Homo sapiens: one gene and its partners. The protein of the gene in region 1 purifies or fractionates together with the protein of each later gene. This does not show direct contact. Each region holds a gene or a part of one and is shown in the gene's direction. Other genes may lie near its edges.

Evidence for each region.
Region 2: the proteins of TBC1D2B (region 1) and CEP120 purify together in Homo sapiens (affinity purification with mass spectrometry; one large-scale study listed by BioGRID and IntAct). This does not show direct contact.
Region 3: the proteins of TBC1D2B (region 1) and PHAF1 purify together in Homo sapiens (co-immunoprecipitation; one large-scale study listed by IntAct). This does not show direct contact.
Region 4: the proteins of TBC1D2B (region 1) and SYNPO2L purify together in Homo sapiens (affinity purification with mass spectrometry; one large-scale study listed by BioGRID and IntAct). This does not show direct contact.

The regions. Positions count from the first base shown.
Region 1 is NC_000015.10:78,066,946-78,071,675, reverse strand, and holds part of TBC1D2B (TBC1 domain family member 2B), read left to right. Parts: intron 1-4,730. UniProt on the Homo sapiens protein: GTPase-activating protein that plays a role in the early steps of endocytosis.
Region 2 is NC_000005.10:123,420,604-123,424,602, reverse strand, and holds the start of CEP120 (centrosomal protein of 120 kDa), read left to right. Parts: upstream 1-1,199; 5' UTR 1,200-1,604; coding exon 1,605-1,653; intron 1,654-1,736; exon of another isoform or gene 1,737-2,136; intron 2,137-3,999. UniProt on the Homo sapiens protein: Plays a role in the microtubule-dependent coupling of the nucleus and the centrosome.
Region 3 is NC_000016.10:67,133,941-67,137,440, forward strand, and holds part of PHAF1 (phagosome assembly factor 1), read left to right. Parts: intron 1-227; coding exon 228-325; intron 326-414; coding exon 415-527; intron 528-687; coding exon of another isoform or gene 688-809; exon of another isoform or gene 810-1,237; intron 1,238-3,500. UniProt on the Homo sapiens protein: Plays a regulatory role in autophagic activity. In complex with BCAS3, associates with the autophagosome formation site during both non-selective and selective autophagy.
Region 4 is NC_000010.11:73,653,230-73,657,408, reverse strand, and holds the start of SYNPO2L (synaptopodin 2-like protein), read left to right. Parts: upstream 1-1,379; 5' UTR 1,380-1,486; coding exon 1,487-1,591; intron 1,592-3,102; exon of another isoform or gene 3,103-3,128; coding exon 3,129-3,280; exon of another isoform or gene 3,281-3,370; intron 3,371-3,755; coding exon 3,756-4,179. UniProt on the Homo sapiens protein: Actin-associated protein that may play a role in modulating actin-based shape.

The DNA.
Region 1 (4,730 bases):
ACATGCCATTCTTGCCTCATGTCATGGAGGTGGCAGCCATTCAGTGAATGCCCACTGAATTTAACAGACATCAGGAATCCAAAAGGGGGTTATGACTCACCCTTCCCCAGAGGAGAGAGCTTACAGTCAGTTCCATATTTTCGGGTCTCATATATTTCATGCCCATGGTCAGGACTCCAAGGACACTGTTATAGCAGAGGCAAACTTTTTATGTAAAGGGCCACATACTATTTTAGGTTTTGCGCACTCTGCCATATCTGTCACTATGCTGTTGTAGTACAGAAACAACCACAGAATGAGTATAGCTGTGTTTTAACTTTTAGTTATGGACTCTGAAATTTGGATTTCATATAATTTTCACATTTCGCAAAATATTCTTTTGATTTTTTTCAACCATTTAAAAATGTTAGCTGGGCACAGTGGCTCACTCCTGTAATCCCAGCACTTTGGGAGGCCGAAATGGGAGGATCACTTGATACCAATAGTTCGAGACCAGCCTAGGCAACAAAGTGAGACCCTATCCCTACAAAAATTAAAAAAAACTAGCCAGGTGTGGCTGGATGTGGTGGCTCACGCCTGTAATCCCAGCACTTTGGGAAGCCGAGGTGGGTGGATCACTTGAGGTCAGGAGTTTGAGACCAGCCTGACCAGCATGGTGAGACCCTGTCTCTACTAAAAATACAAAATTAGCTGGGTGTGGTGGCGGATGCCTGTAATCCCAGCTGCTTGGGAGGCTGAGGCAGGAGAATTGCTTGAACCCAGGAAACAGAGGTTGCAGCAAGCTGAGGTGGCGCCATTGCACTCCAGCCTGGGCGACAAGAGCGAAACTCTGTCTCAAAACAAAAAACAAACTAGCCAGGCATGATGGCACATGTCTTTAGTCCCAGCTACTTGGGAGGCTGAGGCAGGAGGACTGCTTGATCCCAGGAGGTGGACATTGCAGTGAGCTGTGTTTGCTCCACTGTACTCCAGCCTGGGTGACAGAGGGAGACCCTGTTTCAAAAAAATAAAATAGCAAAATAAAAATGTTAAAACTGCCCTTGCCTTGTAGATTGTACAGAAATAGGCAGAGACTGGAAATGACCGCAGGCTGTAGTTCACTGACTTGTGTTCTAGGAAGGCCTCAGGAGCTTCCCACTCATTCACTCACTGTGTGTGCTTAGGCACTGGGGATATGACTGGACAAGACAAACAGTCCCTGTCCTCCTGGAGCTTTCAGTAGGTGGGGGGGACAGACGTTAATAAAATATAACAAACACCAACCAGTGCTAGGAAGTTTGAAAGGAAAGATATGCAATGCATGTATAGTTCAGGATCTTGATCTGGTTTATGGTTGGTGGAGGGCTAGGAAAGACTTTCCTGAAGAAGCGACATTTGAGCTGAGACTCAAAGGATGAGTTGGTGTTGACTGGAGCGGGGGTGGGGGTGGAGAGGAGGAAGTCAAGTGTTGTAGGGAGAGGAAATGGCATAAGCAGAGGCCCTTAGGTGGGGGTGCTGGTTGCATGTGGGACTCAAGGAGTGCCTGGTGGCAACTAGGAGTGAAGGGGACATAGCCTTTGGAAGAGGCAGGCCTTGGGCCAGGGCAGGATTTTGGTCTTCATCTTAAGAGCTAGAGTCAGTAAAGAGTTTTAAGCAGGGTTTGACAAATAGGTTTTTGTTTTCTTTCTTCTGCTCCCAGATAGATTGTTTTAGGCCATTTGTGCTGCTGTGAAAAAATACCGTAGACAGGGTAGCTTATAAACAACAGAAATTTATTTCTCATAGTTCTGGAGGCTGGGAAGCCCAAGATGAAGGCACCAGCAGATTTGGTGTCTGGTGAGGGCTCACTCTGCTTTAGAGGTGGTGCCTTCTAGTGGTGTCCTCATAGCAGAAGGGGACAGACAAGTTCCTTCTGGGGCCTCCATCTATGTATGTTTGTATATATGTATGTATGTATCTATCTATCTAAATGTATTTTTCTCCTCAAATTCCTTTTACCACTCTGGCCTCTTTCATAAGGACCCTGATCTCATTCCAGAGGGCTCTGCCCTCATGACTTAAATCACTTCCCACAAGGCTTCCCTCTTAGTACTATCATCTTGGGGACTGGGTCTCAACACGTGAATTTTGCGGGGACACACGTTTGGACTGTGGCACTGATGGTTTGGTCATGCCTAGTATTTTTATGTAACTAAGTTAGAGGATTATCGTGTTGGGTACAAAGGGTTGATGTATTTATATGTTATGTACTGGCAAACAGATTTAAAAGTAGATAAATGCAAAGCTGAACCTATCTTGAGCAGTTGCTTCTTAATTTTGTTTCTGAGTGGTGGGTGTTGTGATGGGTGAAGCTCGCTTTGGCAGGTGTGTGTGTGGCTAGGGCCGGCCCGCCCTGGTGGACTTCCTTTCCTGAAGCATTCCTAATGGCCCCCGGCATTGACTTCTCTCCTGCTGCACTTGCTTTGCTCATATGCACATTACCAGTTTCCTTCCTCTGTGGAGATGACGATTTCTTGAGAAATGGAAGGAGTATTCAGATGTACCAGCTCCCACCTCACGTCTGAGGGGGGTGGACCAGTCTCCTCGATCAGTTGCTTTTACCTTTGAGCCACTGGGGTGCAGACTTCCCACCTCCAGTCAGAACAAAATACAAACAGTAACACCCCCTTCCTCTAAAGAAAGAAAAAGACCCCCACCATTGTAGAAGTGACTGTCAGTTTGGGAGAGGGAGAGGCATTTTCATTAGCAATTTTCGGTTCTGGTATTTATGTAGTGGGATCTTAATGACATGTGATCGGGTGTTCACCCATATCCTGTCAGGCCAGCCCTCAGCTGGGTTTTGTTTGCTTTCACAGAGTGAATGCAATGTGGAAATGGTAAACTGGGTAGTGGTGACTAGTTAGTGGCTTGTAACTAGTGTTCTGTGAAGTACTTTGCCTGGAGTGCTCAGTTCAGTAAACATCTTGGCATTCAGATATGTGAGGCCATGTGAGGGGCAAGAAGCTGAGAGGATCCCTGGGGAGACTGTGGCTTTCGTGATTGTCCAGCAGGCAGTAGCTCACCAGCCAGCACAGGAGGCCCTCAGTCGGCTACAGATTCAGGATGGTTTTGCTCCTGGTCTAGTCTTTGAGTGTCTGCTGTTGTGTCCTACCAGAGCATCACCTCCTAGGATATTTTGTCAGTGTATTTCACTACTGTGCCTTTCATACTTAGAGGATCCCAGCACCTGTTAGATGCTTGTTGGCTAAATGCATGCTTTAAGCCCTCATATCCTCTGTGTGTGTGTGTGTGTGTGTGTGTGTGTGTGTGTGTGGGTGTGGTGTGTGTGCTTTCATTTCATGGTGAAACGGACGTTTGTAGTGTCCATTTACTCAGCAAATATTTTTGAGCATCTATCATATTCTAAGCACTATGCTGCTTGCTGCAAATACAGCAGTGAAAATTTTCCATTGATTTAAGAAACTGTAGTGTTAACTTTAAAAATAGCTTAGCATCTGATATAATCAAAGAATTGTAAGAGTTTTGAAAAAAACATTGAAGAGGCCCATGTTTGTCTGTAGTATTCAGCACTGAGATAAATATCACATGTCTGCAAGTTTTTTGATTCTGAGAAGTCTGGCACTTCTCCATAGTAAAGGAAGGGGAGGGGGCATCCATATGTAAAATACTAATCTGGATATGGCCCAGGGCCAGAAATCTGTGATTTGTGTAATAATTTTGGTGAACACTGCAGAATTGGAGAGTTCTGTATAACTGATTATCAAGAAAGCTCCCTGAAGAAGATGGGACAAGGGAGTTAGTAAATGTTGGTATAATTGTGTAGCTGCTCAAAGACTTAGTTCCTGTTTGATCAGCAACATGTGTTCCCTGTAAGCTGGGAATCACCATCTTCTAATGAGTTTGCATGCTTGGCCATTTTCTTAGCCTTTGCAGAGATTGCCTGGGAGAACTAGAATCCAGTGTGAGAAGTGGGGATTTGGTAGCTGAGATCCTGTGTGCTTCTTCTTTCTGCCCCTTTCCTAGGCCAGTGCTACTGTACCAGCAGACTTTCCTTGAGCAGACTGCCCCTGGGCTGGGACTTGTGTTGCTGAGTGTCAGATGGCAGGCCTGGCCGTGGCCTGGAGGTGGGCAGGCTAATGTTATCAGAGATGTTGATCTTGGATTATAGGAATTATTTCTAGGCAGCAAGCCCAGTATTCATTTTCCTCTCCAGCTCTCTGGTGTTCAGGAGAGGCTGTGCTTGCAGAGAAGGTGGCCAGCTTTCTAAATGGATGCAGCCAACTGGCCATTCACCAAACAGACTTTGTTGAGCAGGAGTCAAGCTTTGCCTCTGGCCTCAGGGAGCTTCTGTGTCTGTTTTGGGTGTGATTAGGGCATTGTCAATAGGTGGCTCTGGGAGCTGGAGGAAGGCATTCATTATTTTTGCTCAAGGGTCATTATCCCAAAGTTAGAACTGGAGAGGCCCTCAGAGATCAGCCCCCTTCCCATGTGTGATACAGAGAGGAAACTGAGTCCCACAGCTAGCTACCCTACCACTGAAACCTTCTCCTTCTCCAAACACATGAACGATATTTTACCATTTTAAACCCAGCAGTTTGATGATACTTGCTTTATATATCTGTCGTAATCCATTAGTAGAAAATTGGGCTTATTCTTTTTTTAGTAGTTGTATATGGAGACTCAAATTGTACCTTTAACCATTTTGTGTTGGGGCACAGATTTAAGAAGTTTAGTCACATGGAGGTTGGAAA
Region 2 (3,999 bases), on another chromosome or scaffold:
AGTGCTTCATTTTAAGAATGCCTGTGATAGGACCTGAAAGGGCCTTAGAAGTAATTAGTCCAATCTCTACATATTCCTCCTTTTCTTTTGGGCAGAAAGCAAAGAAGGAAGAATAAAGAAGAGGAAGAAGAAAACAATAGTGATATTATATTATTTGCTCTCAAAATAACTTCTAAATTTCCAAAACAAGGAAGCAATAGAAGAAAAAGAAAACAGCGAGATATTATATTTGCTCTCAAAACAACTTCTCAATTTACAAAACCAGAAAGTAATAGGAGAAGCCGCACTTATGTCCACTACCTAGTGCTATCTCTGCAGCTTTATTTTATTATGATTTACTTTTGTTTTCCGAAGCAGAATTTTTCCCAAACTTAATAGTGTCCACGATCGCTCCAACCAATTCGGTTATTTAAGTTTCAAGCTAGATAACCTCCAAAAGAACTTTGCCTTTGACTTGAATACATGCTTCTTGCAATTTGAGTAGTGTTTAGGAGGCCGTTCCCTTTACAAGTCTTGAACCGTTTCTTAAATCTGAATTTGGGAGACGTTAAGGGGAAAGGGTCGGCAGACAGCACCTCAATGCCTTGTTTATTTTTGGTTTTGAGTTTGCTAATAACTTTGTCATCGGGGGTGGAAGAACCTTTATATTTCATTGCCCACGTGACAGTGTTTTTGTTTTAGGGGTAATTTCTAAGGGACAGGAAATTCTCGGGGAGTTTACGTCAGCTTTAACAAGTACAGTAATTACCGTATTGAAGCTACTTGTTTTCAAAGGTCGGAAATTTGAGGTGCCGCGTGAGCACGATTTAGGGACTTTAGAGTTTAGATTTAAGTCATTATTTTTTTGTGATTTAATTTTTTAAGCAGTGTTGACACTGGGTACGTCAACTAAGCTAGGTTTTTTTGTTTTTTTAATCCCCACTAATATAACTCTCAGGTTGTGGCTGAAGCATAAAGCAGGTAATACGCTACACTCACGCTCCTTAAAGGCTACGCAGCTTCAGGAAGCGTTTACAGCAGTAGTGCGCTTGCGCAGCTGGTCCCACACCAAGTCGCCCGCCTCTCCTCGTCCGGCTAGCAGAGGGCGCTGTGAGGTAATGAAGGCGTCCTCCTTAGGGCTCTGGAACAGAGCGTAAAAGGGCGGGAGGCGAAGCTCGCTGACGGGCGTTCTAGCCTTGACTGCTCTGTCTCTATCACCCGTTGTCCTCCAACCTCCCCTGGGCACTGGGCCTGCGGGCCTGGTTGCTAGGCGGAAGCTGGGCGCGGCGGCGGCCGCTGCGGCCGCCCGGGCGTTTGAAAAGCGGCTACGCAGGCGGCAAAAGGTCCTCGGGTGGCGGGCTTGTCTCTGCTTGCAGACTGGCAGGGCTGCAGCGTGGCTTTTTCCTTGAGTCGGGGCACAGTTAGGATCTGGGCTGGCGGCCCGAGGCAGAGGAGCCGGGCGCGCTGCAGCAGACGGCGGTGGGACCTGGCTGCGGAGCGGGGTCCGGGCATCAGGGACCGGGGGCGGGCAGTGGGGGTCCCGCCGGGGGTCCCGGATTACCCGCGACTCAACTGGACCTCACTTCCCCCCAGCCGCCTTCGCCCCCGGACCGCTCACCGCAACCATGGTCTCCAAATCCGACCAATTGCTCATCGTCGTGTCCATCCTAGAAGGTGAGCAGCCTGAGGCTTGCTTTTGCAACTGCTGCCTCCCGAGTTTTAAAAGCTTAGTGTGGGACCGAGGCCTTGTTAACCTTAAGAACCCTGTCATCTGTGCTTTTGTGGTCCCCACAGACTTGTTCAAAGTTGTACGTAGTGAGGTCTGTTAGGCAATTGATTTAAAAATCTCTCCAGGGATATGAGCGCTATTAGGGATAAGTGATATTTAGCGTGACTAGCCGTAGCCCCAGAGAATCTAGAGAAAACGATTTTCATCCAAAGCAGCACGTCGATGGCTTTTATATATGAGCTGAACGTGGTCCTGAGAAGCGCGTTCTGATCAGCGGTTCCCAATAATAGCACTTGTAAGAGCTTTGACTTGAATACAGGCTTCCTGCGATTCCAGAAGTGTTCCGGAGGCAATTCCCTTTACACGTCTTGCTGGAGGACTCAGGGGACTACAGTTCTTAAGAGGGTGTATTATACATTCCTTAAAAGGTGTGTTTTGGATGAATGACATTGGTTTATTGGGACTCATTGAGTGTCAGACACTGTGCTGGGAATGTAAGAATGAAACAGTCCTGATTCTAAAAAGCTAAGGATGTAGCAAGGAGAGTGTGTCAGCAAATAATTCATCAGGATGTGGAAGACCCTAATGAATGACCACCTCTGTCTAAGGAAACTGCGGAAGTTTCACTAGAGGAGGTGGCATTTTTTGGGGTCCTACAGATGATTAGGAATTTGTCAGGTGAAAAAAGGAAGGGCATTCCAGGCAAAGAGAAGAGCAGGGAGCACTTAAAGTATGGAAAAGCAAGACACGTTTTGCCTTGCTTAATTAAATTCACTCAGTAAACATTGGTTAAATTCAGTGTGGTTGGAGAACAGATTTGCAAGAAAGTGGAGGGCATAGGAGATAACAGGTGAATTGAGGACACTTTACGAATAGTATGTTAAGAAGGAGTCATCTTGAGCCAGAGCAGAAGCCTGGCTGCATTTTTTCCCCCATGGGAGAGTGTTTTATAAAGGCCTGGCACTGTGTGAGGGATGAGAGCAAAGGAAACATTGTAATCCTAATCTTTGAATTTTGGAACAAGAGACTGACCAGAAAAGCCATAAAGATTTGGAGCACTATTAACTGTTAGTTTACTTATTGTTTAAAAACATAGGACTGAAATAACCTTAAAATTTGGTTAACAACAGTTTTTAGACTTATAACTGACCATGCTATGAGGAAACAAATACCTCCATTCCCTCCAAGGATGTAGAGGTCTGTCCACGTGGGGAGATCACAGGACACAATATGTTGGGGTATAATATTTAAAATATGTGATATGTACTGTAAATATAGGTTTGAGGGTAGGGTGGGTGGGATGGCTGAAGTTCTTTAAATAATAAGTGAGCTTTAGATATGTGACAATAGAATTCTATGGACAACCCAGGCCAGTCTGACAACCCAGGACATAAATGCAATTCATTTGGGGAAGCTAGTTTTAGAGCAGCAGAAAATGAGGTCCTGAGAGAGGCCTGTTAGTGCTAATTGGGAGAGCTGTGCGATGTGTGTTAATATTCCTAATACAGAGTTTCAAGTGAGAGCCTCAGGCTTAAACTCAAAAGGTTAGCAGTCAAGGTCTTTCTGACCAGCTTGATTCCCAACCAAGTAGCTTGTGCCGGGGTGAGCATGGTGGGTGGAACATTGAAAAGATCAGCAAGATGACCAGGGTAGAGGAAGGTGAATATTTAGAAATGTCATGGTAAGAAATGAGCTTGTACAACTGGAGCGAATAGGCCTCAGAGGATCTTGAAAGCCAGTTTAGAATTAATGTTCCAAGAAATAGGTTGGCAGCATATATTCCTAAATAGAATGCTTTTCTTGAGTTCAGTTTAGTAGCAGTGTGCAAGGAAGAGAACCTGGAGTCAAGGATGTCTGTTAGGTTGTTTCCACAAACATACCCAAAACTAGCATGTGGTCCTCCCTCCAAACTATTCTTCTCTCTTGTTCGTACTGTATTTCCATTCATCATAACCATGCTGTTGCCTTAAGCCAAGAACCAAGGAGTCATCCTCAGCCTGGATTCACTCTCCATTTCTAACTTCCAAATGGTCATCAAGTATAATTGATTTTATTTTCTGAATAATAATAGATTCTACATACGAGTTTTTGAATGAATGAGTTTACATTGTGAGTGCCTTGGTAAGGGGCCCTCATTATCCACCTAACTTACTGTAATAATCTTTTCAGTAGTCTGATTCTTCAATGTTTTCTTCCTTTCCAGAAACATCTAGACTTCCTCCTTTACTCCCTGGGGATGATCTTTCTGAAATGCAAATCTGATTTTCTTAAAGTCCTTCAGTGTCCTAAAG
Region 3 (3,500 bases), on another chromosome or scaffold:
TCTCAAAAAAAAAGAAAAAAAAAGAAAAGGAAAACCAAGCAGAATTAAAGGTGGACTTACATGGTTTTGGGGAGTTTACTGACCCAGAGCCAGAGAGCCAGGTTTAAGGGTGTACTTTGACCCTTTGACCTGAGCAGCTCTTGAAGACCATGAGTGACAGGGAAGACCAGAGCCTGAGTCCCATCACCTGTTGTGCCCTAAGTAAAACTCTTGACCTTTGTTTGCAGCCCAATTTTGCCCATGGCCTGGCTTCTCTCCAGATACCCCATGGAGCAACTGTAAAACGAATGTACATCTACAGTGGCAACAGCCTGCAGGATACCAAGTAAGTATAAGGAGCATGAGTTTCTTGCTAAGGCCTGGGCTGCCTGGGAGAAAGAACCAAGCCTCTGCTCATTCTGTGTCTGTCCCCAGGGCTCCCATGATGCCTCTGAGCTGTTTCCTGGGCAATGTCTATGCTGAGAGTGTAGATGTTCTTCGAGATGGAACTGGACCTGCAGGTTTACGACTTCGCCTACTTGCTGCAGGTCAGTGACTGGCTTTGAGGTTGGTACATTCCGCATTATACCCATGTTGAGACAGTCTAAAATCCCACGTGCTTAGGGTGTGTCTCAGTCCATTCAGGCTGCTATAATAAAATACCATAAACTGAGTGGCTGCTAAACAACAAAAATTTATTTCTTGCAGTTCTGGAGGCTGGGAAGTCCAAGATCAAGGCACTGGCAGATTCAGTATCTGGATGCGCCTGCAGTCTAGTTCATAGAAGAAACTTCTCCCCGTATCCTCATATGGTGCAAGGGGCTAGTTAACTCCCTGGAGTCTGTTTTTTAACGGCACTGATCTCAATCCTGAGGTCTCTGCTTCCATAATGTAATCACCTCCCAAAGCCCTGACCTTCTAATACCATCACCTTGGTGGTTAGGATTTCAACATATGAATTTTAGGGGAACAAAAGCATTCAGTCCATTGCCACATAGTTGGTAGAAGACAAATGATGCAGATGTTTATGGTTAAAGCTTTTGTTTAGTTTTGTCAAGGGACTGGACATAGTCTTATAATTAGCAAATCTTAATAAGCAACAGCACTGCTTCTCTCAGCATGCACATAGGCCTGCTGTGTGCTTATATAGCTTTGTGACAGTTCCCAAGTGTTTCCTGGAGATGCATCCTGTGGGTTGCAGTGCTACTGCTCTCCCCTTTTTTGTTTTTTTCTTTTTCTTTTTTTTGAGACAGAGTCTTACTCTGTTGCTGAGGCTGGAGTGCAGTGGCACGATCTCAGCTTACTGCACCCTCTGCCTCCCAGGTTCAAGTGATTCTCCTGCCTCAGCCTCCCAAGTAGCTGGGATTACAGGCACGCATTAGCACACCCGGCTAATTTTTGTATTTTTAGTAGAGACAGGGTTTCACCATGTTGTTCAGGCTGGTCTGGAACTCCTGACCTCATGATCCGCCCACCTCGGCCTCCCAAAGTGCTGGGATTACAGGCGTGAGCCACCGCACCTGGCCAGCTCTCCCCTTTTTTCTACCTTTTTTTGTTTTGTTTTGTTTTGTTTTGTAAGAGATGGCCTCATTCTGTCATCCAGGCTGTAGTGCAGTGGTGCAATCATAGCTCACTGCAGCCTCAAAACTCCTGGGCTCAAGTGATCTCACCTAAGCCTCCCAAGTAGCTAGGACCACAGGCATGTGCTACCATGCCCAGTTAATTTTTGTCTATGTGGAGATGGGTCTTGCTGTGTTACCCAGAATGATCTTGAACTCCTGGGCTCAATCGATCCTCCCTCCTTGGCTTTCCAAAGTGCTGGTATTACAGGTGCAAGCCGCTACACCCAGCTTTTCTCCCTATATTATCCAGGCCGGTGTGCATTGGAATACTGTGGCCTTGAACTCCTGGGCTCAAGCAATCCTGCCTTAACCTCCTGACTAGGCTACAGGCACGCACCACCATGCCTGGCTCTCCTTTTTCTACCCTTTATGCCAAGTTCTCAACGTAGGCAAGCAGACGGGACTTGTTGAATTGTGGTTTGGCCACACCTTGGCCAGAGTTTTGCCAACCATGAACAACAACAACAAAAAGAAATAGTTGGCCGGGTGCAGTGGCTCATGCCTGTAATCCCAGCACTTTGGGAGGCCAAAGCGGGTGGATTACCTGAGGTCAGGAGTTCAAGACCAGCCTGACCAATATGATGAAACCCCATCTCTGCTAAAAATACAAAAATTAGCTGGGCGTGGTAAAGCACGCCTGTACTCCCAGCTACTCAGGAGGCTGAGACAGGAGAATCGCTTGAACTCAGGAGGCGGAGGTTGCAGTGAGCTGAGATAGCGCCATTGCACTGGAGCCTGGGCAACAAGAGCGAAACTCCTTCTCACAGAAAAAAAAAAAAAAGAGTGCCACCTTCAGTAGCTGGTCCCTCCAGGATCCATGCCTCATTTTGTGACATTCCCATGCCTGGCCAACTTCAGCTGCTTTGGGTTGTGGATCGTGCTTAACGGGACTGGGAGCTTCAGCGTGGAGTTTGTTCCCATAAAGAGAGCTGAGAACCTTCGTGGAGCTCATTGCCTAACCAGCATTTATTCGTAAATTGGGTTCCTGCATCAGTCTCTGAGGCATTGATTCCTTTTTTTTTTTTTTTTTTTTTTTTTTTGCTTCTTTTTTCTTTCTTTGAGACATGGTCTCCCTCTGTCACCCAGGCTGGAATGCAGTGGCATCATCATAGCTAAGTGCAGCCTTGAACTCCTGGGCACAAGGAATCCTTCTGCCTCAGCCTCCGAAGAAACTGGGACTACAGGTGCACACCACCACACCCAGCTAATTCTATTTTTTTGTAGACACGTGGTCTCCCTATGTTGCCCAGGCTGGTCTCAAACTCCTAGCCTTAAGCGGTCGTCCCACCTCAGCCTCCCAAATGGTTCTTAATTATTAAGAATCTGGTATATAGGCTGGACACAGTGGCTCACGCCTATAATCCCAGCACTTTGGGAGGCCGAGGTGGGCGGATCACGAGGTCAGGAGATTGAGACCATCCTGACTAACGGTGAAACCCCATCTCTACTAAAAAATAGAAAAAATTAGCCAGGCATGGTGGCAGGCGCCTGTAGTTCCAGCTACTCGGGAGGCTGAGGCAGGAGAATGGCGTGAACCCAGGAGGTGGAGCTTGCAGTGAGCCGAGATAGCGCCACCGCGCTCCAGCCTGAGCGACAGAGCAAGACTCCTTCTCAAAAAAAAAAAAAAAGAATCTGGTATATGAACTCTGAGCCCACTTCTGTGAACAGTTAGACAGTTCACAACCTTCACGTTACGAATTTCTTAAAATGTGATTTTCTAGCCAAGACAGAACAACCACTTAAAGGAGTGTCATGCTTAAGCTATGGTTTTGGGGTTTTTTGTTGTTGTTGTTTTTTGACAGAGTCTTGCTGTGTTGTCCAGGCTAGAGTGCAGTGGTGTGATCTCAGCTCACTGCAACCTCTGCCTCCTGGGTTAAAGCGATTCTCATGCCTCAGCCT
Region 4 (4,179 bases), on another chromosome or scaffold:
TGGGACTATAGGAGCATGTGACCAGGCAGGCCTGGCTAAATTTTTTTGTATTTTTTTGTAGAAACAGGGTCTCACCATGTTATCCAGGCTGGTCTTGAACTCCTGGGCTCAAGCAATCCACCTGCCTCAGCCTCTCAAAGTGCTGGGATTATAGGCATGAGCCACTGCACCCAGCCCAAGTGTTTCTAGGACATAGAGGCATATGCCAAGGCAAACGGTATTTAGCATACACTAGGTGGGCAGCTATTTTATGAAACTCTGTAGCCTTTGATAATCACAGTTATAGCACCATAATGTTATGCCTTGTAACAGAGACATTCTCGTAATGGAAACCTAGAGACAAGTAGAGATTGTATTAACATGGGTTGGTATGTTTATGCACACCTACACACCTTTCCATGACCACGTATGTATTGCAATAGGTAATTTGTTTTTTTATAGTTTTTTGTTTGTTTGTTTGTTTTTTTTTTTTTTTTGAGACGGAGTCTCGCTCTGTCACCCAGGCTGGAGTGCAGTGGCACGACCTCGGCTCACCACAAGCTCTGCCTCGCGGGTTCACGCCATTCTCCTGCCTCAGCCTCCAGAGTAGCTGGGACTACAGGCGTCTGCCACCAAGCCCAGCTAATTTTTTGTATTTGTAGTAGAGACGGGGTTTCCTCGTGTTAGCCAGGATGGTCTCAATCTCCTGACCTCGTGATCCGCCCACCTTGGTCCCAAAGTGCTGGGTTTACAGGTGTGAGCCACCGTGCCCAGCCTATAGTTTTTTGGTTTTTTTTTTTAACTTTTTTTAATAATAAGAAAATAGAGATGGGGGGCCATCTCACGATGTTGCCCAGGCTGGTCTCAAATTCCTGGACTCAAGCAATCCACCCACCTTGGCCTCCCAAAGTGCTAGGATTACAGGCGTGAGCCACCATGCCTGGCCCACCATTTATTAATTAACAGATAAATTTATATAGCGAGAGTGCATTCTTTCCTGGGATCTTGGAGCAAGCCCAGCCATTCTTTGCCAGCTATGGAATTGAAGCCCCTGCTGCTGCCACTTTGAAAGGGTCTTTGGAGGAAAGCAGTTGAGATTAGCCCATGGTCCTATTAGAGAAGGCACAGTTCCTGAAAGGGTGTACATTGGTTATAGAGCCCAGAGAGTTTGTATTCTGAGTCCTGAATAAAAGGCCCATGCAGGAGAATTGGGAACATGGAGGGCAGAAGTTTGTACTATAATTAGCTCTAGGAGTAACACAGAAGGGGGAGGGAGGGGAGTACAAGCGGCATCTATTTTGAGCACATCTGCGATTGACGGGACATGTGTGCTGGACTGTAATGATCCCAGGGCCAAGTTGCCTGCCTGTGGTGTGTGGTGTGGGGGGGAGGCCTGGGGCAGCAGGAGCAGGACAGCCGGACAGGAAGCCCAGACGGGGTTCGAGCACCTCAACTTCTCTCCTGGGGACACTGTTCAAACTCCGGGGGCCATAGGCCAAGCTGAGCGATGGGTGCTGAGGAGGAGGTGCTGGTCACACTATCAGGGGGAGCCCCCTGGGGCTTCCGACTTCATGGGGGGGCCGAGCAGAGGAAACCGTTACAGGTGTCTAAGGTAAGGGAGAGCCCCTGAAATGAGGCTTCAGGGAAAGGGAACCCAAGGGATCCTGGGAAGAGATGTGTGGTGGCATATGGCGGGGGTTGGGGGGGTGGGAGGCTGTGAAGATGGGGTGGGTGGTGGGCAGGGAAGTATGCTCAAGTCTCATAGTGGGAGTAGCGTCTGACCACAGGCTTCCTGTGGGGGTCTATTAGAAAAGAGAATTCGCGGTTTCCAGGGAGCAGAGGAAAAGGAAAGGCTCTGCTTCAGTTCCCTGCAGCACTGTGGTATCAGAGGCCCAGCTCTGGTCATCCAGTGTTTGTTCTCTTGGGTATGTGCCTCTACTCCAAACTCCAGAAATACGGGGAAGGTTCTAATTTCTCTCTGACTAAACTGATATGTGATGAACTGAAACTGCCTCGAACAGCCTAGCCCAGCCCAGCCCTACCCTGCCTCACCCTGCCCTGCCCATGCCTTCAGTGCTCTTTCCCTAGGTCAGATCCTTTCTCTCACTAGGCAAGACTTTTTTAGGTGCTAGGAGGGTTATGGCAAGATCTGGCCTCACAGATGAAGTCATTATCCTTTTGGTTTCACCCTACAGGCTTAGTTTTCCGAACTGTAAAATGTGGGTAATAATAGTACCTGTACCTACTTCATGGAACCATTCTAAGGATTAAATGCAATAATACATGTAGCACAGTGCCCAACACTTAGTAAGAACTCAATAAATGGTAGCCACTACTACTATTATTACTTTGGCATATATACATTTGTGTGTATACATGGCACACATATACCCAAATAATCACAATCTCCCAGAATACCGCTGGACTCCCTCCAACCTGGAGTACTGTTCTAAAATCTTGACTGTGTAATGGCGCCTGGGGTTACAAGGCCTAGTAGAGAATTACCAGCCAATATAGATATTGCCCTTGGAGAAAAAGCTTGTGGAGATAATCACCATTTCTTTCCGTTTTTTTTCTTTTCTTTTTTTTTGCGACAGAGTCTTACTCTGTTGCCCAGGCTGGAGTGCAGTGACATGATGGCTCACTGCAACCTCTGCTTCCTGGGTTCAAGCAATTCTCCTGCCTCAGCCTCCCAAGTATCTGGGATTACAGGCGCACACCACCACGGCCAGCTGATTTTTGTACTTTTAGTAGAGACAGCGTTTCACCCATTGGCCAGGCTGGTCTCAAACTCCTGATCTCAAGTGATCCACCCACCTAGGCCTCCCAAAGCACTGGGCTTACAGGCGTGAGCCACTGCACCCAGCCAATAACCACCATTTCTAGTTACCTACCCCATGCAGTTCTTCCCAAGCCTCTTTCATTCAATGGTTACCCTATTTCCCACCATATGATGTATTTCTTTCTCCAGTCTGTATACTTTCTTCCCTCTAGACAGGCCACTTCAACTGCAGCCACTTCCATGCATCTCCCCACCCTTCTTACCCTGCAAAGTAAAATCCCCTCCTGTGGGTCCTTCCCATCTTTTCCTTTCATTCTATTCCCTTTGGAGCCCCCTCTTACCTACAGTGTCTCCTTCAACATCTCAGATTCGAAGACGGAGCCAGGCTGGCAGAGCAGGACTCCGAGAGAGGGACCAGCTCTTGGCAATCAATGGGGTCTCTTGCACCAACCTCTCCCATGCCAGTGCCATGAGCCTCATCGATGCCTCAGGAAATCAGCTTGTCCTCACTGTGCAGCGGTATGGACCTCTCTCCTCTTCTCTTCCCCTAATCCAGGGCTCCCATTGCCTGTCTCAGCTCTATGTCTCACTGGCCTGGCTTTAGCAACTAACAGGTACCTATTTCTGCTCGTGCGTTTCTGCTGGAGTGCAGATGGTTTGTGTCTGCCTCCCAGAGGGCTTGAATGTATCTGCAATTAAGGGATGGGGATGTCAGTGGGTATTTGACTGATGAGCCTACTTCAACCCCTGGCCTGTTTCCTCCTCATTACATCTTCCTCTAAGCCTATTTCCACTCACAGCCCTTCAAGCACATTTGCCTCCCAGTTTGTCTTCATATCTCCACTCTTCCCGGCCCACCCATTCCAACTGTATGACAGCCTTCTCTCTCCCTTACCTCTTCCCTCCCCCTTACCTCTTCCCTCCATCCCTTCCAGATCTCTCTAGCTGTCAGTACCCAGCCCATCTCTCAAGCTCTGTCATCTTTCCTATCCAGGTTAGCAGACGAGGGTCCTGTGCAATCTCCATCTCCCCATGAGCTTCAGGTGCTGTCACCCTTATCTCCACTAAGTCCTGAGCCCCCTGGTGCTCCAGTTCCTCAGCCTCTTCAGCCTGGGAGCCTTCGTTCACCTCCTGATAGTGAGGCTTACTACGGAGAGACTGACAGTGATGCTGATGGCCCTGCCACCCAGGAGAAGCCCCGTCGACCTCGCCGCCGAGGCCCCACAAGGCCCACCCCTCCGGGTGCCCCACCTGATGAGGTCTACCTGTCTGACAGCCCTGCAGAGCCAGCACCTACTATCCCTGGCCCTCCCAGCCAGGGTGACAGCCGTGTGAGCTCCCCGTCTTGGGAGGATGGGGCAGCCCTTCAGCCACCCCCAGCTGAGGCTCTGCTGTTACCCCATGGCCCCCTCCGACCT